Regions from separate parts of the Homo sapiens genome. Here all the other regions are linked to region 2. The links come from fine-mapping of genetic effects on gene expression. A gene starts in region 2. Each other region holds a variant in brackets. All regions are shown on one strand. Distances are from middle to middle.

What was found. PIP is the estimated chance that this variant, and not a neighbour inherited with it, causes the effect.
Region 1: its variant is the best candidate, but not a certain one, in a credible set for the expression of GALNT3 in nucleus accumbens (GTEx, PIP 0.67).
Region 3: its variant is the best candidate, but not a certain one, in a credible set for the expression of GALNT3 in monocytes after R848 (Quach 2016, PIP 0.67).

Annotation. Positions count from the first base shown.
Region 1 is chr2:165,846,474-165,857,495 of GRCh38, forward strand. It overlaps LOC100506124 (a long non-coding RNA gene), which reads right to left. Exons shown (of 4, transcript NR_045375.2): 4 at 11,002-11,022. Among named protein-coding and RNA genes, the nearest start is that of GALNT3, 58 kb to the left of the region's middle. RefSeq lists an enhancer at 7,422-7,923. The variant A/G (reference allele first, on the strand shown) is at 6,085.
Region 2 is chr2:165,788,159-165,799,180 of GRCh38, forward strand. GALNT3 (polypeptide N-acetylgalactosaminyltransferase 3) reads right to left here and starts at 6,089. Exons shown (of 11, transcript NM_004482.4): 1 at 5,857-6,089. LOC124906086 reads left to right here and starts at 5,428. Exons shown (of 6, transcript XM_047446887.1): 1 at 5,428-5,634; 2 at 5,761-6,179; 3 at 6,642-6,921. The coding sequence starts at 5,428. RefSeq lists enhancers at 4,839-5,745, 5,746-6,651 and silencers at 5,722-5,811, 5,882-6,031.
Region 3 is chr2:165,759,390-165,770,411 of GRCh38, forward strand. GALNT3 (polypeptide N-acetylgalactosaminyltransferase 3) reads right to left here. Exons shown (of 11, transcript NM_004482.4): 2 at 10,797-11,022; 3 at 5,495-5,667; 4 at 2,516-2,665; 5 at 1-181. Among named protein-coding and RNA genes, the nearest start is that of GALNT3, 29 kb to the right of the region's middle. The variant C/T (reference allele first, on the strand shown) is at 5,514.

The sequences.
Region 1 (11,022 bases), 58 kb after region 2:
TTACAGATGAAAAACCACTTACACAAACCATTTTCAGCTGTACACTTTGTTAAATGATCTGCAAAATTAGAAAAAGAAACTGAATCGTTGTTGAGGTACATTATCTAAAGGGTACACGGTATCCAGAAATTCTGTTGCCTCTTTCATCTGAGTCAATGTGAGGTTTGCATTAGTAAAAATTGTGTATTTAAAAAAAAGAAAACAAAAAAAGAAGAAAGCTAGAGAACTAGTATCAAGCCAAGAAACAAAAGGTAGTCAACAATGTTCTTTTCTCAATGCAGAGAGGGCTTATTGAAATATAAGCAAGAACCTTTTTTTCCTTCAGCTAGTATATATGAGTTAAAATTTTCCAGTTCTTCTGAAAAAGGTCATTTCTATAAATGATGCATTTTAAATACCATTTAATAGCTGTTATTGAAATTTGGCTCATGAAAAAACTACAGTTATATTTTTTTGTGTGTAATCTGGCAAAAATGTCACTATACATGTCAGCTAATTGTGTAATATCTTGCTGCTGTTTTGTTTCCTGTGCACTTCCATCAACAATTTCAGCTTATAACAGTGATTCTTTTCCTTTTGCATCTCAATATACCTGATATAAACTTTTTCTCCCATCAATAATAGTGATTCATGACAGTAATCATGAAATCTTTCATAGGAGACAATGTTGTTAGAATCTGTCTCTAGGGGAAAGTTGAGAAGGGATTGCATAGTTCAGCATTTTCCTCAGGAGATTCGGATGTGACCCCTAGAGGTTATAAACCGTACCACCTTTTGAGAATCACTGATCTTCCTAGGGGTTATAAACTACCTTCCCTTTTGAGAATTACTGATTTCTGAATGAAGACAAAGAATTTATAGTTTTTCTTTAAGCCAAATTAACATACTTCTAGAACACAGTGTATAGATGCTAGACACATCATGGGCATTCACTTACATTTGATAGAGCTTGCACTTTGATTTTTTTTTTTTCTGGTAGCAATAAAAGATTTATGCCCATTCACCAGCTTAGTTGTGATCACCATGTAAGAAGGTTGTCTGGGGTTAAGGTACTAGATAGGCCATTGGATAGAACAAAATTTCACTTTGGCTTATTTGCTTAGCAATTCCAACCAAAGCTAATGAGCTGTAGATCAAAGCAATTTGTTGACAATATTAATGGCAGTCTCAGGTCTAAGTAAATTATCTGACCTTTCACTCCGTTACTTGGCTGTCAGGAAGCTGAAAGGAAGAGTTCAAGCCTAGTCTTGGTTGTGACTACATTTGCTAGCACCTGAAATAATGAGTTTTGGTAGCCACACGATTTTTTTTTGTAATTAATATATACTATTTGTACACTTTTATGCAGTACATGTGGTATTTTGTTACATGCATAGAATGTGTGATGATCAAGTCAGAGTATTTAGGGTGTCCAGCACCTTGAGTATTTGTCATTTTTATGTGTTGAGAACATTTCTAGCCCTCTCTTCTAGTTATTTTGATATATATACAATACACTGCTGCTAACTATAGACATCCTACTCTGCTATCAAACATTAGAACTTATTCCTTCTACTTAACTGTATGTTTGTACCAATTTATGCCCATCCATTCCTCTACCCACCCACACACACACATTCTTGCCAATTGGTAACTATTACTTTTAACATTACTTTTAAATGGCAAAAACTGCAATTACTTTTGTACCAACCTAATATTTCACTCTGTACTTCTATGAGATCCACTTTTTTAGCTCCGACATACAAGTGAGAACATGCAATATTTGTTTTCTGTGCTTGGCTTATTTCACTTAATATGGTGACCTCCAGTTCCATCCATGTTGCTGCAAATGACCAGATTTCATTCTTTCTTAATGAAAGGTGAATAGTATTACATTGTGTGTATATACAAATTTTCTTTATCCAATCATCCAATAGTGGACACTCAGGTTGATTCTATATCTTTGCTTTTGTGAATAGTGCTGCAATAAACATGTGAGTGCAGGTATCCCTTTGATATGATTTCCTTTCTTATGGATAAATACACAGCAATGGGATTGCTGGATAGTATGATTTTTGAGAAATCTCCATGTTATTTTTCATAGTGGCTATACTAATTTACATTCCCATCAACAGTGTATAAGAGCTCCTTTTTCTCTGCATCCTCACCAACATCTGTTTTTTTTTAATTCTTATTAATAGTCCATCTAACTGGGGTAAGATGATATCTCATTGTGGTTTTGATTTGCATTTCGCTGATGATTAGAAATACTGAGCATTTTAAAAATATAACTGTTGGCCATTTGTATGTCTTCTTTAGAGAAATGTCTATTTATGTACTTTGCCCATATTTTAGTAGGATTATTAAGTTTTTTTTGGCTGTTGAACTGTTTGAGTTCCTTGCATATTCTGGATATTAGTTTCTATCAGATGAATAATTTGCAAATATTTTATCCTATTCAACAGGTTGTCTCTTCACTCTATTGATGATCTCCTTTGCTGTGCAGAAGATTTTTAGTTTAACATAGTCCCATCTCCATTCTTGTATTTGTTGCCTGCACTTTTGAGATCTTAGCCATAAAATCTATGCCTAGGCCAATATCCTGTGGTGTTTCCTCTATGTTTTCTCCTAGCAGTTTTATAGTTTTGGGTCTTATGTTTAGGACTTTAATCCATTTTGAATTGATATTTTTATATGATGAGAGATAGCTGTCTAGTTTTATTCTTCTGCATATGAAGATCCAGTTTTACCAGCACCACGTATTGGAGTGGATATCCTTTCCCCAATGTGTGTTCTTGGAGCCTTTGTTGAAAATCAGTTGGCTATAAAAATGTGGGTTTATTTCTGGGTTCTCTATTTTTTGTTTTTTTGTTTGTTTTTGTTTTTGAGACAAAGTTTTGCTCTGTCGCACAATCACGTTTCACTGCAGCCTCAACCTCCTGGGCCCAAGCAATCCTCCTGCCCCAACCTCCCAAGTAGCTGAGATTACAGAAGCAGACTACATGCCTGGCTATTTTTTTTTTTTTTTTTTAGACCTGGGGTCTTGCCATGTTGCCCAGACTGTTTTTGAGCTCCTGGCCTCAAGCAATCCTCCCACCTTGGCCTCCCAAAATGCTGGGATTACAGGTGTGAGCTACCATGCCTAACCTTGGGTTCTCTATTTGTTCCATTGGCCTGTGTCTGTTTTTGTACCAATACCATGCTGTTTTGATTACTATAGCCTTGTAATATATTTTGAAGTCAGGTAGTGTGATACGTCCAGCTTTGCTTTTTTTTCTCAGTATTGCTTTGGCCATTAGAGCTGTTTTTTTGATCTGTAACAATTTTAGAGTTGTTTTTTTCTATTCTAGTGAAAAATAACATTGATATCTTAATAGGGATTGCATTGAATCTGTAAATTGATTTGGGTTGCATGGTCATTTTAACAATATTAATTCTTCCAATCCATGAGCATGAGGTGACTTTCCATTTGTTTTGTGTCCTCTCTAATTTCTTTCACCAGTATTTTGTAGTTTTTCTTATAGAGATCTTTCACATCTTTGATTAAATTTATTCCTGGATTTAGTTTATTGTAAATGGGATTTATTGTAACTGGGATTGCCTGCTTGATTTCTTTTTCGGCTGTATCATTACTGATATGTAAAGATGCTACTGATTTTTTTTATGTTGACTTTGTATCTTGCAACTTTACTAAATTTACTTATCATATCTAACAGTTTTATGTTATCAGCAAAGAGGATCAATTTGATTTCCTCCTTTCCAATTTGGAAGCCTTTTCTTTCTTTTCTTTGCCTGATTGCTCTGGCTAAGACTTCCAGTACTATGCTGAATATGAGTGATGAAAGTGGGCATCCTTGTTTTGTTCCAGTTCTTTGAGGAAATGCTTGCAGTCTTTCCCCATTTATTATGATGTTAATTGAGGGTTTGTTATTTATAGACTTTATTATGTTCAGATATGCTTCCGGTATGCCTAGTTTGTTGAGAGTTTTTATTATGAAGGATCGTTGGACTTTATCAAATGTTTTTTCTGCATTTATTGAGGTTATCACATGGTTTTTGTCCTTCATTCTGGTGGTGTGCTGTGTCACATTTATTGATTTGCATACATTGAACCACCATTGCATCTCTGGGATAAATCCCACTTGTATTATATTTTTGAAGTGCTACTGGATTTGGTTTGCTAGTATTTTGTTGAAGATTTTTGCATTTATATTCACCATGTATAGTGATGTGTAGTTTTCTTTTTTTGTTGTGCCCTTGTCTGGTTTGTGTATCAGAGTAATGCTGGCCTTGTAAAATGAGTTGGGAAGAATTCCCTCCTCTTCAATTTCTTGGAATATTTTGATAACAATTAGTGTTAATTCTTCTGTGTAAGTTTGGTAGAATTTGGCAGTGAAGCCATCTGGTTCTGGACTTTTTTTTGTTAAGAGACTTTTTGTTACTGATTCAATCTTGTTATTTGTTATTAGTCTTCTCAGGTTTTCTATTTATTCCTGATTCATTGTTGGTAGGTTATATATGTCCAGGAATTCATCCATTTCCTCTATGTTTTTCAGTCTGTTGTATAGGTGTTCATAATAGTATCTGATGGTATTCTGTGTTCTTGTGGTATCAGCTGTAATGTTGCCTTTTTCATTTCTGATTGTGTTTATTTGCGAATTCTTTTCTTGGCTGGGTTGGTTAGCAGTTTATTCATTTTATTTATCTTTTAGAAAAATCAGCTTATCATTTTGTTGATCCTTTGTCTTACTTCTTTTGTCTTTATTTCATTTAGTTTTGCCCCTATCTTTATTATTTCTTTTCTTCTGCTGATTTCGAGTTTGGTTTGTTCTCGCTTTTCTAGTTCCCCTAAGTATATTATTGGTTTGTTAATTTGTTATTTTTTTACTTTATTGATATAGGCATTTATTGCTATAAACTTCCCTCTTAGCACTGCTTTTGCTATATCCCACAGGTTTTGGTATGTTGTGTTTCCATTTTTTGTTTCAAAAATTTCTTTTTTAATTTCCTTCTTAATTTTTTCATTCACCCAATGGTTGCTGAGAGCATATTAATTTTCATATATTTGTACAGTTTCCAAAGTTCCTCTTGTTACTGATTTCTAGTTTTATTCCACCATGGTCTAAGAAGATGCTGAGTATGATTTCAATTTTTAAGAATTTATTGGGACTTGTTTTGTAGCCTAACTTATGGTCTTTTTTGGAGAATGTCTCATGTGCTGATGAGAAGAACGTGTATCTACTGTTGTTGAATAAAATGTTCTGTTGATGTTGAATAGGTCCATTTGGTCTAAGTTGCAATTTAAATCCAATGTTTCTTTATTGATTCCTGTCTAGATCATTTGTCTAATGCTGATAATGGGGTGTTGAAGTCTAAAACTATTATTATATTGGAGTCTATCTCTGCCTTTAGGTCTAATAATATTTAATTTATATATACCAATGTTGGGTGATATATATTTAGAATTTTTAAATCTTCTTGCTGAATTGATCCCTTTATTGTGTTTTAATGACCTTTTTCTATCTATTTTTACTGTTTTTTGACTTAAATTCTGTTTTATATGATATTGATATAAGTATAGCTACTTCTGCTTGTTTTTTTGTTTTCCATTTGTATGGAATGTCTTTTTCCATCCCTTTACTTTTAGTCTATATATGTCTTTACAGGTAAAATGAGTTTCTTATAGGTAGCATATAGTTGAGTCATGTTTTAAAAAAATCTATTATATTTAGCTAGTCTATACATTTTAAGTGGAAAATTTAATTTGTTCACATTCAAGGTTATTATTGGTAAGTGTGGACTTATCCTTGTCATTTTGTTAATTATCTTCTGGTTGTTTTCTATCTTTTTCCTTTCTTTTTTCCTTTCTTTCTTTCTCTTTTGTTGTTTATCATTGTGGTTTGGTGTTTCTCTGTAGTGATAACATTTGGGTTCTTTCTCTTCCTTATTTGTGGGTTTGCTTTACCAGTGAGTTTTATACTTTCATGTGTTTTCATGATGGTAGATATCATTCTTTTGTTTCCAGGTATAGAATGCCCTTGATCATTTCTTGTAGGTCTGGTCTAGCAGTGATGAATTCCCTCAGTTTCTGCTTGTTTGGGAAAG[A/G]TTTTATTTTTCTTTCATTTATGAAGGACAACTTTGCTGGGTATTGTATTCTGGGTTGACAGTTTTTTTTTTAATCACTTTGAATATATCATTCTATTGTCTCCTGACCTGTAATATTTTTGCTATATGTATTTTTAAAAATCCCCAGTTAGTCTGATAGAGGTTCCCTAATATGTGACTAAACACTTTTCTCTTGCTGTTTTTATAATGCTCTTTGGTTTTGACTTTTACCTTAATATGCCTTGGAGAATAACTTTTTTGACTTATATCTATTTAGGGATTATAAACGTCCCATATCTATATGTCTAAATCTCTTGCTAGACTTGGGAAGTTTTCAGCTATTATTTTGTTAAATAGGTTTTCTATGGATTTGGTCTCTTCACCTTCTGGAACACCCAAAATTCATGTATTTAGTTGTGTTGTGTTCTTATGTCACAGGATTTGTTCATTCTTTTTTATTCTCTTTTCTTCTTTTCAAAAAATCTGACTGGGCAATTTCAAAAGACTTGTCTTCAGGTTCTGAGATTTTTGCTTTTGTTTGATCTATTGTTGAAGCTCTTGTATGAATTTTTAAAATTTCATTCATTGAATTCTTTCTTTCCAGGACTTCTGGTTTGTTCTTTTTTATTATATCTATCTCTGGTGAATTTCTCACTCACATCCTGAATTGTTTTTCTGATTTCTTTCAATTATTTTCAGTGTTATCAATCATAGCTCACTATGAACTCAAGTTCCTACTCTCAAGCCTGCCTCAACCTGCTAAGTATTTAGGACTATAGCCTGCAGTGTGCTGCCATTCCTGGCTAACATTTTATTTTTATTTTTAGCACAGACAAGGTTTGCTATGTTGCCTGGATTGGTTTCTTGTGTTTTTACGTTGATAACTGTACCTCCGGTGTAACAGTCACTTCTTCCAATTTTTTTTTGAATTGACTTTTACAAGGGAAGGGATTTTTCCTGAAGATACATCTATGCTGTTGGTTGGGTAGGACACTAGCTTTGATTCTGGGTGCATGCAGTAGTGTAGTCTCCATATGATTTATTCAGCTGTAAACAGCATCAGCTGTGTCTGTGATTTCCTAAGTGGCTTAGGTTGTTGTTGTTAGTGGAGGCTATGGTGAGGTTTTGTTGAGGATGAGGATTACAGGTAGGCCAGTCATCAGATTCCAGTCGCGGCAGCAGTAGACCAAGCATGCCTGGCCTCGGGTTCCCAGTTGGCGTATGAAGTCACCAGTGTTAGTGGGTTGAAACAGGCCAATACTTAGGTCTACAGATGGCTGAAGTGCTGCAGTGGTAGTGGTGGGTCAGTCAGTCGAGTGGGTCCTTGGTCCCTGGATAGCATGTGTGATGTGGGTGATGGCAGTAGTAATGGCAAGACAATCCTTGGGCTCTGAAGTGACACACATTGGTGTTAGTGATATCTACAAGGAGCTGGGTATGTCAGTCCCTCATTCCCTAGGCAGTATGTGCAGTGGGTGCTGCTGTGGTGGTAGCAGCCCTAGGAGGACTGCACAGATGCCAGTGGTGGTGGACAGGGTGAGACAAGCCCTTAGACAGTGTTCTAGGGCACTGGAGTGGGGGGAGTGCCAGGCCAGGTAGGCCTGTTTCCAGGGACCCCAGGAATGTAATCAGGCCCTGGCTATGGTGGGCAGAGAGGAGTGACACTCAGGCTCCCAGTAGAGAGCTTGGGAGTCTGCTACAACAGGGGTGGTAGGCAGGGAAAGCCTGCCATTAGGGTATGTCCAAGTATGCTGCAGTCCTGCTGTTGGAGTAGAGGCAGAGTTTCTGACAGTAACTATAGCCACAGGCAGGCAGTTCTTAGGCTGTGTGGGAGGAGGGATGCTTTAATCCCCAGTGGCAGTGGCAGTGGTATATCAGCTGTAGTAGCAGCAGGGAAAACTAGTTCTCAGGAAATGTGCAAATGCGTGATGGGAGCCCTGCTGCTTGGTAGATGGAGTCGTGACCAGCTACATGTGTTTTGGCTTCTGGTGGCAGCAATAGTGGCTGTGGCTGGTGATGAGAGGGTCTGTCCTCAGAGTGTGATTGCAGTAGCCCTGCTGCTGGGGGCAGGGTCATTATATGTGGTAGCTGTCCCAGGTAGGTGGTTCTCTGGCCATAGAGAGTATGTGCTTTGGCTTTCTTTGTCCTGGGAGAGCCTCCCTAGGGTGCTGCACCACCGTTTACCTGGCATACAGGGCACTGTGTGTGCTGGAGTGCTGGGGACCCTGCCATTCTGCTGAGTCTGACTGGTGTTATTGCTGCTACGGCTCTCTGGGTGGACACAGAATGGTGTCAGTGGGGCTCCAGGGACGTGAAGGTGCAGGGGCTCTTGGGCCCCAAGGCGGGATGCAACCTCCAGTGGGTCCTAAGCTCTCAAAATGGCCCTATGGTGAATCTGCTTAGGACTTGGTGGGTGCGTTGGACCATTATGAACTCCCACTCTAGAGCAATGCCTTTGTGTCATCTCCAGGCAGGTCCCTATGCTATTCTGAGAGCCTGTGATGGGGTCTCCCATGGCTAGGGTATCAGGAGTCCATGGTGGGAATATGGAAAGGTGGGTATCTACTGCTTACCCTTTTCCTGAACTAGGGAGTCTTTATGAGCTCCCAGCTGATCCCAGCTGAGCTGACTGCCTCCCTTCCTGCTCCTTCCATGCCTCAGGTGCTTCCTGTTCCTTCTCTGTTGAATTCCAATATTCTCTCTTAGATGCTCTATTCGAAGTTTGATTATGCACTTGCTATTTTGGTTCTTGTCTGTGGAGGAGGTAAGTGTCAGATGCCTCCAGTCAGGCTTCTTGAAGTTCCTCTCACATAAGTCTTTATGTCCTTCATGACAATCTTACTATCCCAATGAGTGAATGACTATATGACAAAACAATCTTATTATATGTCGACATCACAGTATCACAGTGGATACTATGGTAGGCACCATGCCCCTATTCAAAATCAAGGCACTCATTTCCCCAGATGCCAGGAGTATTGGCTGCTAATGGCTCATAGCTAAACCCCTCTCCAAGCACTGGCCTTGGATTAAGACTATATTTCCTCCTGAAGAGAGAGTGGGGCAGCCTGTGTACAATGCAGGACCAGGACTAGGGTGAAAAACTGGCCTTGAGTGCTAAATTTAAGCAGGAGCCAAAAACTCAGTAATCAAACAATATTTTAATGTAATATTTTAAAAATAAAAAATGCAAAGGTTCTGTAATTATCAAAATATCACAATTTTAAATAAAGATATAATCAATATGACTGATTTTTCTCTTTGCTTGAGGCTCCAATATGGCTCCCCAAAACACTCTCTATTTTAAAGCATTATTTAAAAAATACTAACCAATGCAAAAGTTCACCCTGAACAAAATACTGAAATTTTTAAATAAAGGCTGACTTTTGCATTAATTTAGGTTTAAAAAATAATAATACATTAAAATATTATTTATCTTGGCTACTGAGCTTTTTGACGCCCTCTAAATTTTGTCCTCAAGGCAAGCATCTCACTCTTCTTATGTAGTCCCAATCCTGGCAGATTGACTCAGGGGAAACCAATGTCTGTCTCCTTTGCCTTAAAGGGAGGCCATGGGAGGCCATCCCATCAACACAGTCCCTTGGGGATCAGCTGAAGCCTTCCTTGTGACTTCATTGCAGTCCAATCCTGCTTTTCTCCCTCCCTTACCAGCATTATTCCTAAGAGTATCCTGCAGGTGAGTCTCTGAGTCTCTTTCCTCTAAGACCTCCCCAGAGAAGAGAGGTGAAAACTGAAGTTCACAGAAGGTGAGGAACTTGCCCAAGCTCTCAGAGCTCCTATGAGATGAAAACCCAGGTGAGACCAGGCACAGTGGCTCATGAGGGTAATCCGAGAACTGGGAGGCTGAGATGGGAGGACTGTTGGAGCCCAGGAGTTCAAGATCAGCCTGGGCAACATAGTGAGACTCTATCTCTTCAAGCAATAAAAAAATTAGCTGGGTGTGGTGGGTGCACGCCTGTAGTCCCAGCTACTTGTGGGGCTGAGGTATGGGGATCACTTGAGCCTGGGAGGTCGAGGCTGCAGTGAGCCATGATCACGCCACTGCACCCCACCCTGGGTGACAGAGCAAGACCCTGTCTAAAACAAACAAACAAACAAACAAAAAACAAATCCCAGTCAAGTTAGTATGACTTTAAAGCCAGTGCTTCTCATTATAACATTCTATAGGCTGGGGCCAGAATTTGTGGCTACAGTCTAATAAGTCAAAGGTAAAACAGAGATACCAGCAATCCCTATGCACTCTCCTAATTGAATTTCCTAATTGCAGACTAGAAATCAGGTTCTCTGATTTCTAGGAAGTGGGCCTCCGATTATATCAGACCCTGTAGTCAGCAGAATAATGCCCGCATCCCCACTGAAGATGTCCACATCCTAATCCCTAAAACCTGTGAATGTGTTAACTTACATGGCAAAAGGAACTTTGCAGATGTGATTAAGTTAGGGATCTTGAGCATATGCTGCATTATCCATGTAGGCCCAAATATAATCACAAGGGTCCTTATTAGGGAGAGAGGGAGGCAGGAAAGTTAGAGAAGGAAACATGATGACAGAAGTAGAGGTCACAGTGATGTGATCATGAGACAAAGAATGCAGGCAGGCCTTAGAAGCCAGAAAAGTCAAGGAACAGAGCCTTCCCTACAGCTTGCAGAAGGAAGGGAGCTCTGTTGCCCCTTGGTCTTAGCTCTAAGACCCATTTTGAACATCTGACCTCCAGAAGTGTAAGAAAATAAATTTGTGATGTTTGAAGCCTCAAGGTTTGTGGTAATTTTTTATAGCAGCAATAGGAAAGTAAAAGACCCCTAAAGCAGTGTTTCAGCCCTGGCATTATGGCATCACCCATGTGGCTCTGAGATGTATTGGATCCCTAACAGAAAACAGGTAGGACCACCAGAACAATTTAATGAAGACTTCTCAGTT
Region 2 (11,022 bases):
TCTATTAAAAATACAAAAAAATTAGCCAGGCACCTGTAGTCCCGGCTACTTGGGAGGCTGAGGCAGGAGAATGGCATGAACCTAGGAGGCAGAGCTTGCAGTGAGCCAAGATCACGCCACTGCACTCCAGCCTGGGCGATAGAGCAAGACATCACCTCAAAAAAAAAAAAAAAAAAAAAAGGCAGATTGACTTATATTGCCTGCCGATGCCTCTCCCCTTTCTGTGACATTTCTACCCCAAAATTTTTATTCCACAAAAGGCTTAATGGAAAGAGAAATTTTGCATGTTTTGCAAATAATCCAAAAGGGTGTGTGTGTGTGTGTGTGTGTGTGTGTGTGTGTGTGTGTATACAGACAAGAGCAAAAGCAGACTATATTTATATCGTATCAAGCAAATAATAGAAGTATACACAGGACACCTCACCCTGCTCAGGTATATGTGGAGGTGTGGGTGAGGGGACACAGTTTCCCAAATGAAGCAAGACCTTCTTTGAGTTTTAAGAGCCATTAAGAGCTATAGATAGATGTAAAGATAGAAGGAAAGGCACTCTCTGCAGTGGGAAGTGCAAAAGAAAAGCACACAAGAAAAAAAAAACAATAAGAAGTCTATTGCTGGGAAATAAAATTTCGGCTTATGGAGTATCACTCCAGAGTTAAGCAAGTCTCAGATCCCATGGGACCATTTTAAGGGCTGTGGGTTCTATCCGGTAAGCAACAGAAAATTGTTGAAGGATTTTAAGTGAGAGAGAGAATTTGCATTTCTAAAAAGATCATCCTCATCCTCCAGATGGTGGACTTGAGGTTGACAACACTATCTGCTGAGATACCAGGTAGGAGGCAGCTATGATACCTTGGTTGAGAGATGTTAAGACCTTAAACTAGATCAGTAGAAGTGAAAGAATTTATGGCTGGGAGAAAGGTATAAAATGTTAAGTGGATTCAGTGTTCTAATGGTTGTTGTCTTAGTTCATGCTATAACAAAATACCTTAGACTGGGTAATTTAAACAACACAAATATACCACTCACAGCCAGAAAGCTGGGAAGTCCAATATCAAGCTGCTGGCAGATTCAATGTCTGGCGAGGGCACATCCCTCATAGATGGCCTCCTAGGTATCCTCACATGGAGGAAGGGCAAAAGGCTAACAAGCTTTCTCAGTCCTCTTTTATAAGGACATTATCTTTTACAAAAACACACGAGGCCAAGGCCCTCGTGACCTGATGACCTCCCAAAGACCCTACTCCTAATACCAATACATTGGATTTGATTTCAACATATGAATTTTGGAAAAACACAAACATTCAGACCATAGCAGTTGTAGAGGCTAAGAAAAAGAGTTTAAAATTACCTCTGGATTTCTGGTATGGCACCTGGATGGTAGTACACATTTATGATTCACTCTCCCAAATCTCTGCAGCAAAATATATTTCAAAATTCAGGATTTGACAGCCTGTAGTCTCAGCTACTTGGAAGGCTGACATGGAAGGATCACTTGAGTCCAGGAGTTCAAGATCAGCCTGGGCAACATAGTGAGACCTTGTCTCATAAAAAAAAAAAAAAATCTGATTTTTTTGGATGTTAGAAAGGTGATATGGTTTACATAATCAATGTAAAAGTGTACCCCAGCAGGGCCTGGGCAGTATTATGTAATCAAACAGCACTATTTCTGCAGCTGGACATAATCCACTAAGTTGAATACACAATCACAATAGCCTCCTGACAGTTCACTCAGGCTTTGCTCCAACTGAGTTCAAGTTTTGCTAACAAATGAGTTAAATTTTGTTTTGCTTTGTTTTCAGAGGATGATTTTTGAATTATAGATAAGAAATGGTACAATGTACTACTATCTATAAATAGAATACAGAGAGTGAGCAGGTTGTTTGTTCATTTGTTTTTTGATGAGATGAAGGTTCTGGTTTGAACATATATAATCTCCAGTGATGAACAAATGTTAAAGATGTCCAATAGGCAATCATATAGAAAAGAAAATTAGTTTGGACAGTTTGAAACTGAAACAATTATAGGGAAAAGGTGTACTTGGGGGAATATTCTCTCTTTAGTGCCAAAAATAAGAGCCCAACTCTGAGAATGACCCAAGGAAGTGTCATATAATTGTCAGTAGTCTCTAATGACCTAGAATTCAGAGTCCTACTTGTCTTTGCTTTGCAATAAGTGAATGTACTTTTGTCTCTTGCCACTGCTGGAATTGATTTGAATTCAGTTTTCCCCCTTAGTGTACATGAGTTGTGTTAAATTTCACCCAAATTACATAGTATGAATTATTTTGATACTAACTAAATGCATAATTGAACAGCTAACTGAAAACACCTTCCTTTTCAATAGGATTTTATATCTATAAAGTATCTATCATTCCAAATGTATTTTTGCACTTGATGGACTAAAGAACTGAATACATGTGAAGATGATTCAGGCACTGATCATTTCTAAAATCCTAAATATGATAATATTTTCCTTAGGAGAAATATTTCACCCACCAAGAATGTAAAGGCAGGTTAAAATTGAAAGTGTCTACGGAAGGCTTAATTATCCAATCAGAGCTTCCAAGACTACATTCCTACAAATCATTGAGGGATCTATTTTAATCTCTCAATGTAGTCTTTTTGTGGAGAGGGGGAGTGTAATTCCTACAATTTGTCTCATACTTGTTTCATAGTAAAAAAGAAAAGCATTAAATATTAACAGAATATAAACCAAATAATAAACTGGCTATGTTTTCTCTAATAAATTTTCAGACTCCACCCAGAACTCTAACTCAGTCATAAAACTTTAAGAGTTCAGAATAGAGCTGGACAGAAGGTTTCTCCCTCAAAATTTCACTGAATTCTTATCATCAAAATCCCCTCAGAAAAAAATATTTCTAGTTTTTCCTGTTCCCAAATACACTACAGCATGATGAGAACCCATTTAACACAAAATATGTATAATGAACAAGGTTTCATGTAGTTCTTAATATTTGAAAGATTTAATCTAGCACCAAGGTCCTGGAGCCTCAAGCCCTACAATACATGTTTAATTAGGATTACAGTAAAGTTTTTAAGAAATAATTTATTTTCTTTCATGTGAGTGGGTGTGTGCCTGTGTGTGTGTGTGTGTGTGTGTGTATACGCATGTATGAGACAGAGAAAAAGAAAGCTGGTAGAAAAATCAGCCTTTAAAAGAACAAAAATTCAACAGAATAGTGCTATTTTCACATTGAGGGCTCCAGCACTTTCGTGGTCATAAAGCAGTCTAATTGTTTAGACCAACGTTTTTAAAAATAAAATAATAAAGAACATACATGTTGTAAGGTTAAGCACTGTTTTATATTAATAAAACTTGTTTCATTTATATACACTCACATTGGAGTTTACAGAGTTGAGGCAGAGAATAAATTAGTTATTGAGGATTGCAGTAAAAGGAAAAAAAAGTTTAAAGAAACTTAGTGTTAAGGAAGTGTGCTTGAAATAAAAAATCTGGAGTGTTGCAAATGGATGAAAGGCACTGGGTAGCTGCCTCATAAAATATATTTTAAGCCAATATAATAAAAAGATCAGAAGACTAAATAATGTTATCCACATTGACTTAAAAAATTAACTGTGGCTTGGAAATACCAAGAAGGAACTAAAAGTCTCAACTGACATGGCATCATCAATATGCATGCTATTCCACAATGAGAGGAGCATGATGCCTTCACTGGGTAGTTTCCACGAAGTCAGGCAATATTTGGACAAGTAGAAATGAGGGTAAATCAGAGTGAAGAAAGAGCAATGGACAATTCTGTAATTACAAAGGCCTTACAAATTATATGAAAGAAAAAAGATAAACATCTTATGGTAAGTGAGGATGTGGGTGGTGAAAAGTAAGATACAGGAGTCATGAGTCAAGCCACTGGAATGATCATGCCATCTCTGAGTGAAATGAAGTTAGAATACCTCTCTTGGCTTCAATTTTTCATAAATGGATGGTTTGAGTATTGAATCTCCAAAGTGAGAAAGGGATCTCGAGAATGCTAGGGCTGGAAGATACTCCTGATTGTTTTTAAGGTTTTGTTATCTTAATCTAGGAAAGTATTATTTTTCCTATTTAACAGATAGATTAAGTTACACTGTTACTCTAGCTAATGAAAACATGTTACATTTCTCACTAGAGGTTAAGAGGAAAGACAGTCTGGTAACATCTGCCTAGTAAGTAATGAAGACTAATATTCAAAATTCAGGGAACAACTCCTATATCTCATATTTAAACAGTATTTAGCACATTTGTTTCTCTGTATGGAGACAAGATTAAGAGGTCAGGTGAGATCCTTTTAAGAAATGTAGAAAAGTGGTGATTGAATTAATAATTACATCATGTTATGCTGTGGTTGGCTTTTAGATTTCCATCTAATCTTAAAAAGAAGAAGAAAAATAACCCCACTACATGTTGCATCAGGCATTTTAAGTAAAACGTGCAATTTAAAAAATATTTTTAAAATGTGTGGAGATAGAACAAAACAATGGAATTGTTATTATTATCAGAAACTTCTACGTAAAAATGTTGGTTAAAGCAATATATAAAGATTGATTCTCGGTACAAATTGCTTGGAAAGTTTAACATGTGCACTAGATTTCAGATATTAAAAGTTAAATTAAAAAAAAGAATCTAATGGCAGCGTGTGACTTTAACCTCATGGATTTTAGCCACAAACGCAAAGAAAAATATATACAATAAAAGAAGCAACAGATTTTCCCACAAGCAGAGATTTTCTAATTAAAATGCTGTCACTTTAATATTTTTTAGCTATAGAATTTGACTGTAAATGTCTTCATTATGTAGTGTAACTTCTATAGCAAGTTATGTTAACGTTTTCAAGAATCGGAAATATTGGTAACTCGATGGGGTTCTTAAAACAGAAATAGTTTCTTTGATGAGTTGGAAAGAGAAGGAAATAAAAGTCTAAGGTAAGCGCCAGTTTCACCCTCAATTCTTAGGCTTCAGAAAAGCCTAATTAGGCAGGGAAAGGAATCTGGGCCTGGCACACCCAAGCTTAGACGTGGCAGGATCCTGAAACAATGTTTTTTTGAACCTTTGAGTCATATGCCACAGGCAAACCATAGCCGCGATATGCAGGTCCTTAAGTCAACAGGTCCTCTAACGAGATGGTGAGTGGTTGGTGCGTGGCAGTTGGATTTCTTCCCGCCACGGAAGAAAAGAACTCTTCTCCATTGATCAGGAAAGTGGGCCCAACTCTGGCCTGGAGAGCGCACCCGGAAAAGTGCAGAGTCGAAACAGAGAGAGAGGGGTGTCCGCGTCCCGGCCACAGAGCCCTTTCCAAACCACTCGGAAACCATTTAAATGGCTCGGCGGCCGCGGTTTGCAGCCTAGAACTGTTTGGGGTCCCCGGCTAGGAAAGTTGCCTGGCAAAGCCATGTCTTTCGCTGTCGCGGGATGTCCTCTCGGGCAGAGAGGCTGGAGGAGACAGGCAACCTGCTAGCCGGAGTGGAAGCGCGCCCGCCTCCCGCCGGGCCCTCCCTCTCAGGGTCCCCACGCTGCGACCCTCCCAAGGGCAAGTCCGGGGCCACCAGGTCTTTGGTCTCCGTCCAGCTCCTCAGGGGCCGCCCCATAGGGACTGGCGGGGGCACCGTGGGCGAGAGGGTGTGACCGGGCTCCCCCCCGAGGCGCCACCTGCCCCTTGGCCCAGGGCGCCCCTTTCGGGATCTCTCCAGGGGCAACCGACACACTGCTCTCGAGACCGTCTCCAACCGGCCACCTGGACCGTAGCCCTGTCCCCAACACGTGAACCCCTGCGGCCGTCCTCCCGCCTGCTCTAACGCAGCCCAGGGGTACCGCGTCTCCCTCCGCCTGCCGCCGGCTTACCTGGCGGGTGGGCAGGGCAGGGTGGCGGGAAGCGGCGGCCGGGCAGGCGCTGGACGTGGGCTAGGCGCCAGGTGCAGGTGGCGGCGGCTGCGACTCCGGTTGCTGTCGCCACAGTTGCGGCTCAGTAGAGCTCCTCCTCCGCCGCCGCCTCCTGCCTTCCCGCTGGGCCTCCCGCGTTGCCTGGAGAGGCAGAACCGAGGCTCGGCTTCCACTTGGAGTCTCCCAGGTGAGCTCCAGCCTGCGACGTCGGCAGGGGCGAGGCCCCACTTCCGCGCCTGCGCGCCAGCCTCCCGCCCCGCCCCAGCCCTACCTGAGCGCTCCAGGTGAGAACCTTGGATCGCGCGCGCAGGGTGGGGGCGCCGTCCGGGCCAAGCCTGGCTGTCGCGCGGCTTCTCTCTGAGTGGTCGGCGAGGCTGCTGCTCCGCGCAAGTTGTGGCTCCCGGCCCATCTACATTGGAGGAATCCTGCACTGACCTGGTGGCAGTGATCACCTTGTAGCCAGAACACAGTCTGCTGGGTCCTTGGGGAACCAGAAGTTCTAGATTTCCCCCACACGGTTCCTCCCTTCCTCCTCGGTTCGCCAAAATGAAGGGGTGCGCTGCCTCCGAGGACCACTTCGGGAGGGCAGCAACTGCTGGCTCATGTGGTTTCTTCGGGCAGGGTTCAGCAGCTTCTGTCACCAGTTAGGTTTCGTGAGCTTCCTTCCCGTGTAGTCTTGATTTCATCACTTGACTCACTTCAGCGCAGCTAGTGGTTTCCGTTTCTGTACGCGGGCGCTCTGGTAGGGGCGCCTCACGTCCAAAGGAGGAGTCTTCTTCCAAAGAAGAGCCTTTGGTATTTGGCAGAGCCTCGCCAATTTGGGGCGCACCTCCCCTTCCTGGGATGCTCTCAGAAGGCAAACCAATTCCCAGAAGAGAGGGAAAAACAGCCACAACAGAGAGAACCTTTGCTGTCCCTGTTTGGAAAGAGATTGGGATTTCCTGGAGAGGGCTTGCTTCTACTGCAGGTTTGTTTAAAAGCTCAACATCTATTCTGGAAGAGAACAACGCAGACTCCAGGAAGATGGTGGGTTTTGCTGTTTTTAAGACAAAAAAAAATTGTTAAACAGTATTTGTTCCATTTATGACACAACTTTCTGTTTCAGCCTTCCTTCTGCTGCTGCAACAAACATTGACACACCCAAAACCAGGACTTAAAATGGCCTTTATACCTTTCTATGAACTCATTTCTTTGGCCCTATCCCAAAGATATCTAGGGATATAAATAGAAAACTAGCTAAAAACTTTTTGGTGTCGTGTTTAATCACATGGTGGTAGGTTTTACTATGAAGTTTAGTTGTGGCCTTCCTCCTACATTTTGACATGCTCTTATGGTGCTTATTCACTGTTTTATTAGTGCTATGCGTGACCTAAAAATAAGGTTTAAAATACAGTTTAGTATAGTATCAACAAGTGTATCTTTAGTATTTGACTACTCTAAGACATTGGTTTTAGCATCCATAGTGCTATTTTATACTAGGACATCTATGAGTTAGGGTTTAAGACTTTAGTAAACTAGGTAGTTCTTTGCTTGTTTTACATGTCATGGTTATTTTGCGAGCACCAAGGAACCTCCATGTATTTGCAACATTTTAATATCAGTACCTACAAGCAATTGCCAAGCTCCCTTTCCCTCCAAAAACAAACAAACAAAAAAATAGTTCAGGAGATACTTGTGTGTATTGATATACTAACTTGGCAGTGTTTTTCCTTAGGTCCAGGTCCAGAACTGAAAATACTAACTACTGAAATTCTCTTCTCCTTCTCCTTCTTCTTCGTTGTGCCACTTTGTCGTTTACCCCTAACCAGAGGTTAATGTTAGTCTTTGGAAAATTTGTAAGGTATCCTAAATGTATAACCAAGAAACCTGTACCCTTTTGCACGCACCACCCATCTCTGAATGAAGAGCCAAAGATTGTCAGAGTTTTGATGTCCCACCAGGCGAAGAGCAACACTTTTCACTGACAATCAGGACAGAGCAGATGGATATAGAATAACAATCTGGAATCCAAGGACTGAGATGCATTGACAGCAAGACTAGTAACGTCAAATAACAACTGAAAAGAGAAGCTAGGGTAGACCTATTAAAAGAGAGAGCCAGCAAACAGGACCAAAATGCTGGATGAGGAGTCTAAAAAGAACAGAAGAAACAAAAAAGATCAGGAGTTACTAAAATTTGACTGTCAGTTTTACAATGGAGACAGACAATTTAAAGAAGGAAGCAGTTTTTCTGAGTGTGGCATTACTTGTGCACGTTGAGTGTCATATATATAGAGAGAGAGAAAGAGAGAGAGTGAGAGAGAGTGAGAGAGAGAGAGAGAGAGATATCTTGGGGATGAGACCTGTCTAAACACAAAATTCATTTATGTTTCATATACACCTTATACACATAGCCTTAAGGTAATTTTATAAAACATTGTAAATAATTTTATGCATGAAACAAAGTTTGTGTAAAGTACTTATGTGTGGAATTTTCAACTTGTGGTGTCATGTTGGTGCTCAAAAAGTTTTGAATTTTGGAACATTTCAGATTTTGGATCTGTGGATTAGGGATGCTCCACCTGTACTATTTTACACAACGTTGCTTGTACTATTTCAAAGCATTCTGAAAGCAAAGTCTTAATATTAATAAAAAATTTTCTATGTGACAATAAAATTAAAATGCTGCAGGCCCAAGAAAAAAATATTATCATATTGAAATATTTAATGCCCCAAATCTAATCAGATGCAGGTTTTTGAAAGTACCATCCTATTCAAAATTATGAAATAAAGAATTTGTTTCATAAAGAGAAATTAGCATTTCATCATAAATAAAATCCAGGAACCTTAGTGTAGACATGCTTCAGAAATAAGCTAATTTTAATAGTATATGTTTGACATATAATGACAGTTAAGATAGAAAACTGGGCAGATTTTACACAGGAAGGAAACAAACATTCTCTCTCTCTCTCTCTCACACACACACACGTACTTATTACACACACACACACACACACACACACACACACACGACTAGCCACAAAATGCTCATTTGCATGGATTTGAAACAATACTCACTCCTTAATACTTTCTGTTAACATTTAAATTAATGCCAAGACCAGCACCTGGCACTTAGTAGGTACTTAATAAATATGTGTTAAATGAATAAATTGACCCATCAAGTACCATAAAAAAAATGCCTAGTGTCTTGAGCAATTTACAGGTCTAAAGAATGGTTTTACCCAACAGTAATGACAAATAATCCAAGGCAGATAAGAACACTAGACTGGTAATCTGAATTGCAAAGTTCTAAGAACAATAGCTACCAGCTTTCACATACCTACATTTCAAAAGACACTACGCAAAACAACTTACACTCCTACAAATTACTTTACATCTGGCTTAAATATTCTCTTCCACAAAACAAAATAGTGGTACAAGATGATCTACAGGCTTCTTTACATTCTGATTCATATAAACTCTATGCCAAGAGAATTGGGCAAATAAATAAATAAATAAATGAAACCTTCTGGATATAGCAATAATAATTAATGGGACAGCAAAGATGAAGAAACTGAAATTATTTAGCTGAGATCGAAATTTTAATTCATAAAAAATAGTTGTAATATATAATGTAACAAGTAAATGTGTAAAGTTACTAAGCCTAACTTTAAACTATTTTAGTTTGTTAATTGTTTAATTGTTGGTTACACAACTTTGCTTTGAAACATACTCTAGAAACAGTTTTGCCTCATGAGGGAACTAGAGCTTTTAGTGAGGATCTCAAAGTCAGACTGAGAGATTTGGCTCAAAGACTGAACAGACTGGAATAATTTCTTCTCAAAGCAGTAAAAGTGTTGAAATGCTATTGATTCAAGCAGAGAATAGAGGTGGTATCACAGTGAAGAGCCACAAACACGTGGGTATTTTTTAAATAATGATCCAACATAATTCTACATTGTGTTTAAAATATAGCAAGTTAAAACAGGGAAAATATAAATAGGTTATTTTAGTATGAACTTTTTTGGACATTGTTTTATATGATTCTTCCCCCTGTAGAATCTCAGAACAATCATCTCAGATTTTCAAAGTGGTTCACATACTATGAGGGGTTGACTTAGATTACAACAAAACTATGTCTTGCTAATCTTGTATTCTTAGTACTTGGCACATAGTAGGCACTCAATAAATATTTGATGAAATGTATTGAATAGAGTGCATTGTTTCAAGCTTTTAAGCATTAGCATAAGAGCAAAAAGAAATGTCATGCTGAGTCAGAATAATATTCAATCTAACTGGCTCTAAATTCTGACAGTGGCACCAAAGAATATTTTGTGGAAAACTATGGTGATAGTCTTGCATGATGTTGACCTCAGTGATGTACTCGAGTATCCCTCACTCACTCTTTTCCTAAATTGATTTCTCTTTTTCTGTAACATGTTTCTTTAAATTGAAAAGAAATTAATATTCATTACAGAGAAATCAGAAAATACACATAACTGCAAAGAAACTAGCTTTGAAATACTCAGAATTCCTTATACCAAGATGAATCAGTGCTATCAGACCCTTTCTATCATGTATCTTTGCAGATTTTTTTTATTGAAAAAGTTGGCAGGAGGCACGGCATGGAATGGGGAACATAGAGGGATACAGAGACAGGTTTGTAAAATAAAAACTAGATCATTCTGGGGACTTGTTTTGTAGCCAGAGTTTTCTACTTGACATATAATTAAATGTCAATAAATTTATTTTACAGTATTATTTTAATGGCTGCCTGATATCCCTTTGTAAGGATTTAATCTGTCAATTACTGTTGGACAATGAAGATTGCTCCCAAATTTTGCTATTGCAACCAGTGCTATAATGATCATACTCTTCATCTGTTGAAACATTTATTACGATTTTCTTCTAATTGACTTTTATTTTGTTTTTGTTTTATATAGAGATGGGGGTTTCACTATGTTGCCTAGGCTGCAATTGAACTCCTGAACTCAAGCAATCCTCCTGTCTCGGCCTCCCAAAGTGCTGGGATTACACGCATGAGCCACCAGGCCAGGGATATTTTTGTCTTTTGAGACAGGGTCTTGTTCTGTTGTCCAGGCTGGATCACAGTGGTGCAATCATGGCTCACTGCAGCCTCAACCTCCCA
Region 3 (11,022 bases), 29 kb before region 2:
TCCCAGCCAAATGAAAGACTCCAGTCAAAATTTCCACGGTTATGGTTACTTCCATAAGGAGAAGGTTTGTTGAATTCAAACGTGTTCAGATCTATGGATGCAATATCTGGACTTACGACAGCCGTGTAGTTCTCAGCTATTCTGGCCAACAGAGGTTCTAGCCAACCATAGAAACACTCACCTGGAGGGAACAGAATTTTAATTAATTCAATAAAAACATTGAAGTTTTTTTCTTTAGTTATTTAGGTGAAGGTTTACAGAGAAATGAGAATAACAGAGTCAATTTGTGTTTTGAACATGTATATAATGGAGATTTCTTTCTTCCTCAGATTTATTGAGATATAACAAATAAAAATTCTATACATTTGCAGTGTATATCATAGTGTTTATATATGTATACATTGTAAAATGATTATTGCAATCAAGCTAATTAACATATCCATCACCTTATCGGCTTATGGAGCGGGTGGTAAGAACATCTAAGATCTACTCTTAGCAATTTTTGAGTAGACAATATATTATTATTAATTACAGTCACCACGTTGTACAATAGATCTCCAGAAGGGGAGATTTTTTAAAGGTTTATTGTGATGAGATGAGGGTAGGATGAAAAAGGTGAAAAAAGATTCACTACAGTTAGAAAAATTCCCCTACAGATGATGACCTTCTTTCTTCTACAAAAGATGCAAAATAACACCAGTGTATTTAAAGTTTAGATGATGTGTTAAAATGGCCTATGAGTCAAAGGTAGCTTTTTGCTGTTCCACATTACCTGGCCCTAAAAGTGTTCTGATTTATTTAAACTCGTATCTCCCTGAATAAGGTACAGTAATTGAAATTTTCATTTATCTGACTGGGTCTTAGGAGAAAATAAGGAGTCAGTATAAATTCCGATTTTAGCAACTGGAGAAGAAGGACCATTCAAAGCTGCCCCAGACCTAATATAAAGGGAGGGCCAAGGAGTTTCATGTCATGATAGGTCTAAGCCCTGGTCACAGGCCAGGCTGTTTTATGTAACACACAGCAAGTTCAGCCAATGCATGTGCTGTCCTATTCTGGGCTCCCCACAAAGCAGTATTTGGCAGTCATGGTCCGGGAGGACCGTCAGACATATCCACCCAGTGGGTAGTGGGTAAGAATGTCCAGTATGATCTTATTGTAATTTTGAACAACGAGAAGAAATACCAGAGGATGGTATTTTCCTTTTTAAAGCACCTCTCTAGCATTACCTTTAGTGTTCTCTTCATTTTCTAAATGTCTGGTATTAAAAGAGAACTGAATGTGATGGCTCTAAGCAACACAAGCACATCCAAAAGCCCTTCTGTAATAATCGGTGTGTGCTCAAAACTAGTAATTGGGTGAAACATAACCTAAGCACTGGCCAATTCAAAGCTAGACACTCATACAAAGTATAGCCCACTAAACTCAGAGCTCAAGGGACAAAATGACAGTTTAGTAATAACTAGCATGCATATGACACATTGACTCTAAAAATGCTTTCTAAATACTTCAAAAACTTTGACTCTGAAAATAATTAAAGTACAAAGAAAAACCAACAGCAGCAAAGTCAAACAAAAATTGACAATGTTTATGTAAGGGATACCAAAGAAGATGGGATGGGGCACCCCTAACCTGGCATAAAAAGTATATATATAAACATATTTTGGTTTTGTGGTTTTTATTGAAAATTCGCAGACTCCTTTTTATGCCAAGGAGTCTGCAAATTTAAAAAAAAAAACACACACACAAACTAAAATATAAAAAAAGCAGCAGTACTAGGACGAAGTTTAATGATAGGGTGGATTATATTCACTCACTCATTCATTCATTCATTCATTTTGAAACGGAGTGTCACTCTGCTGCCCAGGCTAGAGTGCAGTGGCACAATCTCAGCTCACTGCAACCTCTGCCTCCCAGGTTCAAGCGATTCCCATTCCTCAGTCTCCCTAGTAGCTGGAATTATAGGCACATGTCACCATGCCTGGCTAATTTTTGTATTTTTAGTAGAGACAGGGTTTCACCTTGTTGGCCAGGCTGATCTTGAACTCCTGACCTCAAATGATTCACCAACGCCGGCCTCCCAAAGTGCTGGGATTACAGGAATGAGCCACCACGCCCGGCTACATTTAAATAGTAAATAAGCTTTCATTCACTTTAAAGTGTGGGAATCAAGAAAACAAACAAACAAACAAACAAACACTTTTTTTTTTAACAGAAAAGAAACATGGAAAAAAAAAAAAGAGGCAAGGATAACTGGCTGGAACAGCTAGTAACTGGAGAACACTGAAGTTGAGGAAACTTAAACACAAAAGGAGATAAGAATTCTGCATAAGTGAAAGGAATTTTCTCCACAGAGCTGTTACCTGCTTGGGCTGTCATTGCTATAATCGCCAGTTGAAAACGCTGTTAAAGAAAATGCAATTAGGCATTTAGAAAAGAAAAGACTTCCTTACCTTTTAAATTAGAGGGAGAGGGAGGGAAAATGTTACAACCATATCCATACATATATACTTACAGTGAGCATCTAAAAATGTGAGCGTTTCAGCTGTTGCGACTGTTGCTCCTAGCAACCGAGCAGTGATCAGACCTTTTCTTTCTCTTTGTCTGACTATTTTTACTATAGAAAATTGTTTTACATATTCATCTAGTTTATCATGTAAGTACTCTGTAAGGAAAAAAAATCAGGGTTAATTCTTTCTAAATGCATTTTCATATATAGCTTATGAAAGCTAATGAAACCACAGAGCAATGATCCTTCCAAATTCATAATCTTAACAGTTGCATGTGTCCTTCCAGCAAAATGAAAATTTTATCTTTAACTCCTTACTGGGGAAAAAGGCTAGCTATGCAAATTATCACTACTGTAACACAAAACACTGTAATGCATACTTATTCTGTACACTTCCTATCAATAAATATAATGTGTTTGGAGGGAAGTGAGAAACTTCAAATGGAGTCAACCCTAGCCGTTCAAAAGACTCATTTAGAGGTCTGAGAAGACTGACTACAAGAGTGAAAGATATGGAATTTGGCCAAAAAGATATTCAATGCTTTGAAATTGGTATTTAAATCTGGAAATCTTAAAGAAAAATGTCAAATATCTAAAGACCTCTGATATTTAAGCAAGGATCAAAATAATTTAACACCAAAATGTTGAGCCACGTCAGAAAGTCCACAGCTATAGCAGTTTGGGACGATTCCTACACAGAGTCAGCAGAAAAATTTGCGAAAGCTTTGGAGTCTCCTGACAGTTTTATTTAGTAAAATATGAAACAGGCAAATTTTAGTATTGGGTATATACTTTAAGATATTCAATATACCAAATTGGATAAGGTTTGTAATAAGCAAAATTTGAGATCATAGGTTTTAAAAAAGTTATTAACAAATGTCAATCCAGTGTTGTTTTTTTGTCTGGTTTTGTTTTGAGACAAGGTCTTGCTCTGTCGCCCAGGGTGGAGTGCAGTGGCACAACTCACTGCAACCTCCGCCTCTGGGCTGCAAGCAGTTTTCCTCAGCTTCCCAAGTAGCTGGGACCACAGGCATGCTCCAACAGGCCCAGCTAATTTTTCTTTTCTTTTCTTTTTTTTTTTTTTTAGAGACGGGGTTTCATCATGTTGCCCAGGCTGGTCTGGAACTCCTGAACTCAAGCTATTTGCAGGCCTCAGCCTCCCAAAATGCTGGGATTACAGGTTGAGCCACTGCGCCCAGCTGTTCATATTCTGAAACAACTTCTTAAGCCTGTTTTTCTCAATTAAATTTTTGATTTCTTATTGAGTACAAAATGCAGTTCTTCAAGCAGCCTTCTTGGGCCCAAAACATAGCCTCAAAAAAATTTGGGAATGTTAAGAAAATCAATAAATGTCCTGGGGCAAAAGTTTGCTTCTGCCAGATTTTAGAAGGAAATGCAGATGACTTTGACTTTATCTGTGATAATATAACCTTTTTTTCAATTCTCCAGTGGTTCAGTTAAGAGAGCTGCTTATTTAAAGCTTAAACATTCATAAGAGAGGAAAGTGCAGGAACAACCCTTGTAGAAAAATAAATCTATCTAAACACTGTTGTCTCAGAGTAATAGATTAACTTTTTAACACCTTCTAACTACCTCAAAATAATTCTCAGATTAAGCTTTTAACACCTTCTAACTACCTCAGAAATAATTCTCAGAAAGACAAGCAGAATTGTAACTCATCTTAAATATATAATCATAAACATTTTCTGTTTTAAGAGGCTTGTAAAAATTTCAACATTCTTGGTTAGAATTATTTTAAATGGAGTTACTACAGATTGCTTCAATATACCCTCTCACTGTTGGAATTTGTTAAAAAAAAATTTACTTACCCACAACATATGAACTTCCCGTAAATTTATATCTGCACCCTAAATTTAGCTCCCATGCACACCCTTTATTTGGGAGGTTAAGAACAGAAAGCTACATGAAATCAGATGCCCTGATTTCACTTTATGGCACAATTACTTTTAGCTGTGTGACCTTGGGCAAGGAATTTTACCTTTTCTGCGCCTCAGTTTCTTTAAGATGAGGATAATCGGACTCACCATCACAAGACATTGCTGGGAGGATAAAATGAGATATCTGACCTTCAGGAATCTAACTCCAAACTTGGATTTATTAAGGAATAAATTTTGTAATCATTGAAATAATATGTATCTGTTTGACACAATATTTAAAATACTTATGATGTTTGAAAATTTACAAGTTAGAGTATTTGTTAAATTAGCCTTGTGATTCCAATTTAAAATGTGTAATTTAGTATTTGACTTCCAATTTTAAGTGGAAATGTACTAAAGAATTTGACTAACATTGTAAGTAATATTGGAATATTTAAGAACACCGAAATAAAATAGAACATGGTGACTCTTTTTAACTATTCATTTATATTATTTATTGATATTTATATTAACTCATTCAGTCTTTAAAACAACTCTAGAAATTATGTACTAGTTCTGTATTTCCTCAATTTTAAGCTACACAATTGGATTCTTCTTATAATCAATTTCTTATAATCAATGGCATGTTAAGTTTAATTAGCTGTGGGTTTTCTCTAGTGATTTATAAATTAACAACACATAATATATTTAATGAAATATGGCATTATTCCCATTTTGCTGATAAATCACAGCAGAGAGGTTGAGTAACTTGCCCAAGTCATATAGTTGGTTAGGAAAAGAGCTGGGATTCAAATCAAGGCAGCCTGACTCAAAGGCTCAAGTCTGTGCTCTTAACCTCTATGCCTTACTGTAACAGTCTCACATTGAGGACTACATAGTTATGAATAATGGTGTTTCATACATTTCTGCATTTGAAAATATTTGAATATGTCCATCCTTGGATTCTAATTTCATTCACCATACCCACTATCCAAACTATTATATTCAAGCTCTGAGATGGCATACAGAGAGTACCACATAACCAAGTAGACTGTAGATACCACAATATGGATTTGGGAAACAATCTAATTTGCATGTGCTTTCTTACCATCTACACTAGCATCATC[C/T]ACCAAAATGATTTCCTTCAGCAGTATTGCAGGTGAAGAATAGAGCACACTGTGGACAGTTCTAAGCAACGTGGACCACGCTTCATTATGAAAAACTATTATGACACTGGTGGTGGGCAGGGGAGGGCAGCGCTTAAATTTTTGTTCAATACATCTAGAAGAAGTCAGAGAAGTAGAAAAACAATTACAAATTTTATTATTTTATTTCACAGCTATACCATTGCTAACATTATCATTATTGAATCTTTATCACTGAAAAAGGATAGTTTTCTTGTATGTGATATAATCTCAATGCTATATAAAATGTAAATAAATCAAAACAATTTTTTTACAAGCAAATCACTCACCCAGAGATGATGTCTACCAACAGAGATGACAACATATCAAGGATTACAACATGTTATTATAGCTTTCTCAACAATGTAATTTTAAATGCAAATAACATTTTAAATAATGAAAATAACCTACAATGAGGCAGCATGTAAAAATGACAAACCCTTATAATTGCTCAAATAAAAACCAAATTTTTCTTATTTCATGCAGAAATCATTCATTTTTCATATTTGCAACTTTAAAAATTGTACCACTTTATTAATTTTTTTTTTTTTATGGAGTCTCTCTCTGTCGCCCAGGCTGGAGTGCAGTGGCACGATCTCGGCTCACTGCAAGCTTCACCTCCCAGGTTCACGCATTTCTCCTGCCTCAGCTCCCGAGTAGCTGGGACTACAGGCGCCCACCACCACACCCGGCTAATTTTTGGTATTTTTAGTAGAGACGGGGTTTTACCATGTTAGCCAGGATGGTCTCGATCACCTGACCTTGTGATCCACCCGCCTAGGCCTCCCAAAGTGCTGGGATTACACACGTGTGCCACTGCGCCCACAATATTAAATCATTTTTATAAAGATTATCTTTAATTAGATATTTACCTAAGTATGTAATATAGGTTTCTTAAGTATTTCCTAGGTTTATTGAATCAATTTACTTAATCTATACACAGAATCAAAAGGGAAAAAATAGCTTTATTGTAAAACCTATGTTCTTCTTATTTTTATTTAAAATAGAGACAGTCTGTGATGTTGCCCAGGCTGGTCTTGAACTCCTGACCTCAAGCAATCTTCCTGCCTAAGCCTCCCATAGTGGTGGGATTATAGGGGTGAGCCATCATGTCCAGCCTAAACCTATCTTTTTATGATGTTCATCATTCAGCAAATACTTATTAAGTACTGCCATTTGCCATGTGTTAAAGATTTTGCTCCAATAATTTGATCTACTATCAAATAAGACTAGCGTTTAAAAAAACCCTTTAAAAATACGTAGAAATAAAGATCTAAATAAAGACCTAAATCCATGTTAAAAGTCCTGTGCTCATGTCACCATCTAAAACATTGATTGGGCACAGGGAGAGAGACCCTAAGTGCCCTTGACTGATTAGTGGTACTACTATCCATTAGTTAAAAACATTACTTATAAATTGATCTCAAATTCATTTGTATAGGAATGTCTTTCCTCAATGAAAAATATCTTCATATTAAGCCACTGGGGTGCAGGAGAGTCTGCATAGTCTCCAGCCTTTGAGGCTAGAGATGTAGAGATAACCACAGTGCCAAGCCTGCTGAATGGAGGTGAGGATTAAATGAAAGAACATATAGGAGAGGGCTTCAAGTCACTGGGACATAAAATAAAACTGTGTGAGGTTTATGGGAAAGATAAGCAAATAAAGCAACTATATCTTTAAGGTCACTTAAAAACCATAAATTGGAGATAAAAGCCCATCACCCTTCAGTTCCTCTGCCAGGGCCAATGGGGAAACTGTAGCCTCCAGTGTGATATTAGGGGCCTGAGAAAACTGCCCTAAAAAAAGATACACAAATTATCCCATTAATTACTTTCATAGTCATACCTCAATAGGAATGTCTCTGATACCCTTTTTTAACAGCAAGTCTTTAGAATGGATTATTTGTAGTGATTAAAAAAAGGAGTTGGATTGGGGTAAAATATCAAGAGAAGATGTCAACAACAGATTAGAAAAAGGAGAGGATGGATTCTGAGTGAAAGTGGCATTGCTCTTCAGTTTCTTCATGATTTCAAAGCATGATACAGGTGCATGGGCGGAAAAAATAAGCACCTTCTTCATCATTCATAAATAAAAACAAATTATTTATTCTAAATTGAATTTTGGATAAACTACCAATTAATAAAAAAGCTCAAACACAAACTATTAATATACACACTTGAACCACAACTACACAGAAATAAATGACTAAATATAAGCTTATATTTTGAACCCATAAAAGTTTATAACCAACATAAACTAGAAGTAAAAATTATGAAAAATTCCATATTGTGGTATTTTATTTTTAAAGAAAAAAAAAAGAGGAAACCTATGATTTGTTATAAGCATTTTGAGGAGAAAGTGAAATTCTGAGTATAAGATTTTTTTCCTACCTTTATTTGCTATGTGGTTAATTAATATAGTATTAATCGATAATTATAAAATGGTTTTGAAGATTTAAAGTATAAAATTTCACAAAAATTCATACTAGTAAAATGTTATCACTTTAATCTTGCAAGATTTTCCGTCAGTTTAAACTAGGATTTATTTGCTTAACTGATAATTACCAATATCAAGTACAAATGTCATATCAATACAAGTAATAAAATTTCACAATATAATTTCATAAACCCCATTCATTTTGAAACAACATGTTAAATGTATGCTTTGAAAATTGTTTTACATATTTAAAATAGTGCAATTAAAATAACTTGCCAAAGTGACTGTATCATTCCAGTCAAACCATTTGAAAAACCTGGCACATAGAAACATGCTTAAATTATCAGTCACATGACCATCTGGCTTTGGGAGAAACTAGGTCTATATTTCTAATGAGCATGGAAAACATTAGCAGTTCTTCAGAAAATGTGTTATTTGCTGATACTGGTTACATTCAAAGTAAAAAACAAATCTTTTTTTTTTTTTTTTTTTTTTTGAGACAGAGTCTTGCTCTGTCACCAGGCTGGAGTGCAATGGTGCAATCTCGGCTCACTGCAACCTCCGCTTCCCGGGTTCAAGTGATTCTCCTGCCTCAGCCTCCCAAGTAGCTGGGACTACAGGCGCACATCACCATGCCCACCTAATTTATGTATTTTTAGTAGAAATGAGGTTTCACCATGTTGGCCAGGCCAGGCACAGTAGCTCATGCCTTTAATCCCAGCACTTTGGGAGGCCAAGGCGGGCAGATCACGAAGTCAAAAAACAAATCTTTACCACCTGTACAAAACCCTGTCCAAAGTAAGAAATAATTAAATCTTCACTCCAACCAAAAAATGTTGTTAATGTGCTTACTTGTTTTTCACTTACTTAGCGATTAACATTATTGAAAATTATTGCAGCTTCTTAATGCTATATTGGGAGAAAAAAGCTCATTTTGAGCTGTCACTGATTGTCATGTCAAAAGAATAAAAATCATGATTATTGATTTTTAATGTAGATTACTTTTCAATCAAAACCTCTCTTCAAGTCAGTAAAGTGCAATACTGCATTCTAATCTATTACTGTATGAAAGGAACTATAATGTGCCTTGTTATATCAGCTAGAATATTTTATAGATATTAGTTTCTTTACACATTCATTTAAAAATTATGAGCAACCTAAACTTGAATCAATCAGATTAGAATAGCTCAACAGAAATCTAAGCTACACAGTTTCAATGTTAAGGGACTCATATACTTGGATCCAGTATTGATAATCCTAAATCTAGAAAAACCTGAGTGAAACAATAGACCAAAAGTTATCTTCAAGTTCACTGCCAAATGTAATTCTCTAATATCCAGAAAGCAAAGCAAAATACACAGGCATTGTTTGCTTCCAGTTTGCTTATCTTGTACTCTTTTTTTTTTTTTTTTTTGGAGATGGAGTTTCGTTCTTGTCGCCCAGGCTGGAGTGCAACGGCACAGATCTCCGCTCACTTCAACCTCTGCCCCCAGGTTCAAGCAATTCTCCAGCGTCAGGCTCCCCAGTAGCTGGGACTACAGGCACACGGCACCCTGTCCGGCTAATTTTTGTATTTTTAATAGAGACGGGGTTTCACCATGTTGGCCAGGCTGCTCTCAAACTCCTGACCTCAGCTGATCTGCCCTCCTCGGCCTCCCAAAGTGCTGGGATTACAGGTGTGAGCCACCAAACCTGGCCTATCTTGTACACTTAAAAACTTACTGAGGGGCTGGGTGCAGTGGCTCACGCCTGTAATCCCAGCACTTTGGGAGGCTGAGGTGGGCGGATCACTTGAGGTCAGGAGTTCGAGACCAGCCTGGCCAACATGGTGAAACCCTGTCTCTATTAAAAATACAAAAATTAGCCGGACGTGGTGCCACATGCCTGTAGTCCCAGCTGCTCGGGAGCCTGACACTGGAGAATCGCTTGAACCCAGGAGGCAGAGGTTGCAGTGAGCCGAGATCACACTACTGCACTCCAGCCTCAGTGAAAGAGAAAGACTCCATCTCAAAATAATAATAATAATAATAATAATAATAATAATAAATAAATAAATAAATAATCTGTTGAGGGTGGGCCAGGTGCAATGGCTCATGCCTGTACTCCCAGCACTTTGGGAGGCCAAGGCAGATGGATCACCTGAGGTCAGGAGTTCAAGACCAGCCTGGGCAACATGGTGAAACCCCGTTTCTACTAAAAATACACAAAATTAGCCAGCTGTGGTGGCGGGCGCCTGTAATCCCAGCTACTTGGGATTGTTTACAAAAAATAGGGCATTCTGAAATATAATTAGGTACTCAAAAACTTTGAGTCAAAGTAATCACAAAGTCTGTGAATTGCTTTACACATATATAAAATATTATCCAACAGTTCCAAAATCTTGGCATGTTTTTAAACATTTTTATTCTAAAGAAATACAGAGAAATGGAAACAATTCCTCTACCTTCTACTTCCTATACAAATTGTCCAATAATTCCCCCTAAATAGATGAGAAAACCACAGTATTTAGGAATAAAGAATTTCCTTGTGGATAGCAGTCAGATCTAGAATTCAGTTTTCTAATTTCCAAGCTAATAACTTTTCATATCTGCACTGCCTCACCAAGCATAAATAGGGATATGTAGCCTCAATCATTATAAGCAAAAAATAAATACAACAGGTTAAATAAACAGTATTTGCTGATTTTCTGCCTTAGAGTAGCTAAAAAACAGATAACTTCCTTAGCTCACCCCTCTCTCCCCTGCAAAGCCTGGTGATAAAGAATAAACAATAAATATTCTTCAACATACTCAGGAGGTCGAGTGTCTGGTCCAAGATCTCGGTGCAAAGAAATCCTGTCACTTGCGAAAGCATTAAAGCAGTGTTTAGCTTCCCCACGTTCCTTTTCCTTTTGCTCTTCAACACTTAAATTGGTTGTCTTGAATGCTTTACCAGAAGCACCAGGTGCATTTGAATCCTGAGGTGGACGGTCAAGGACAGGCTTCAATTCTGCTGCTGTATAATATCCTTGCAAAC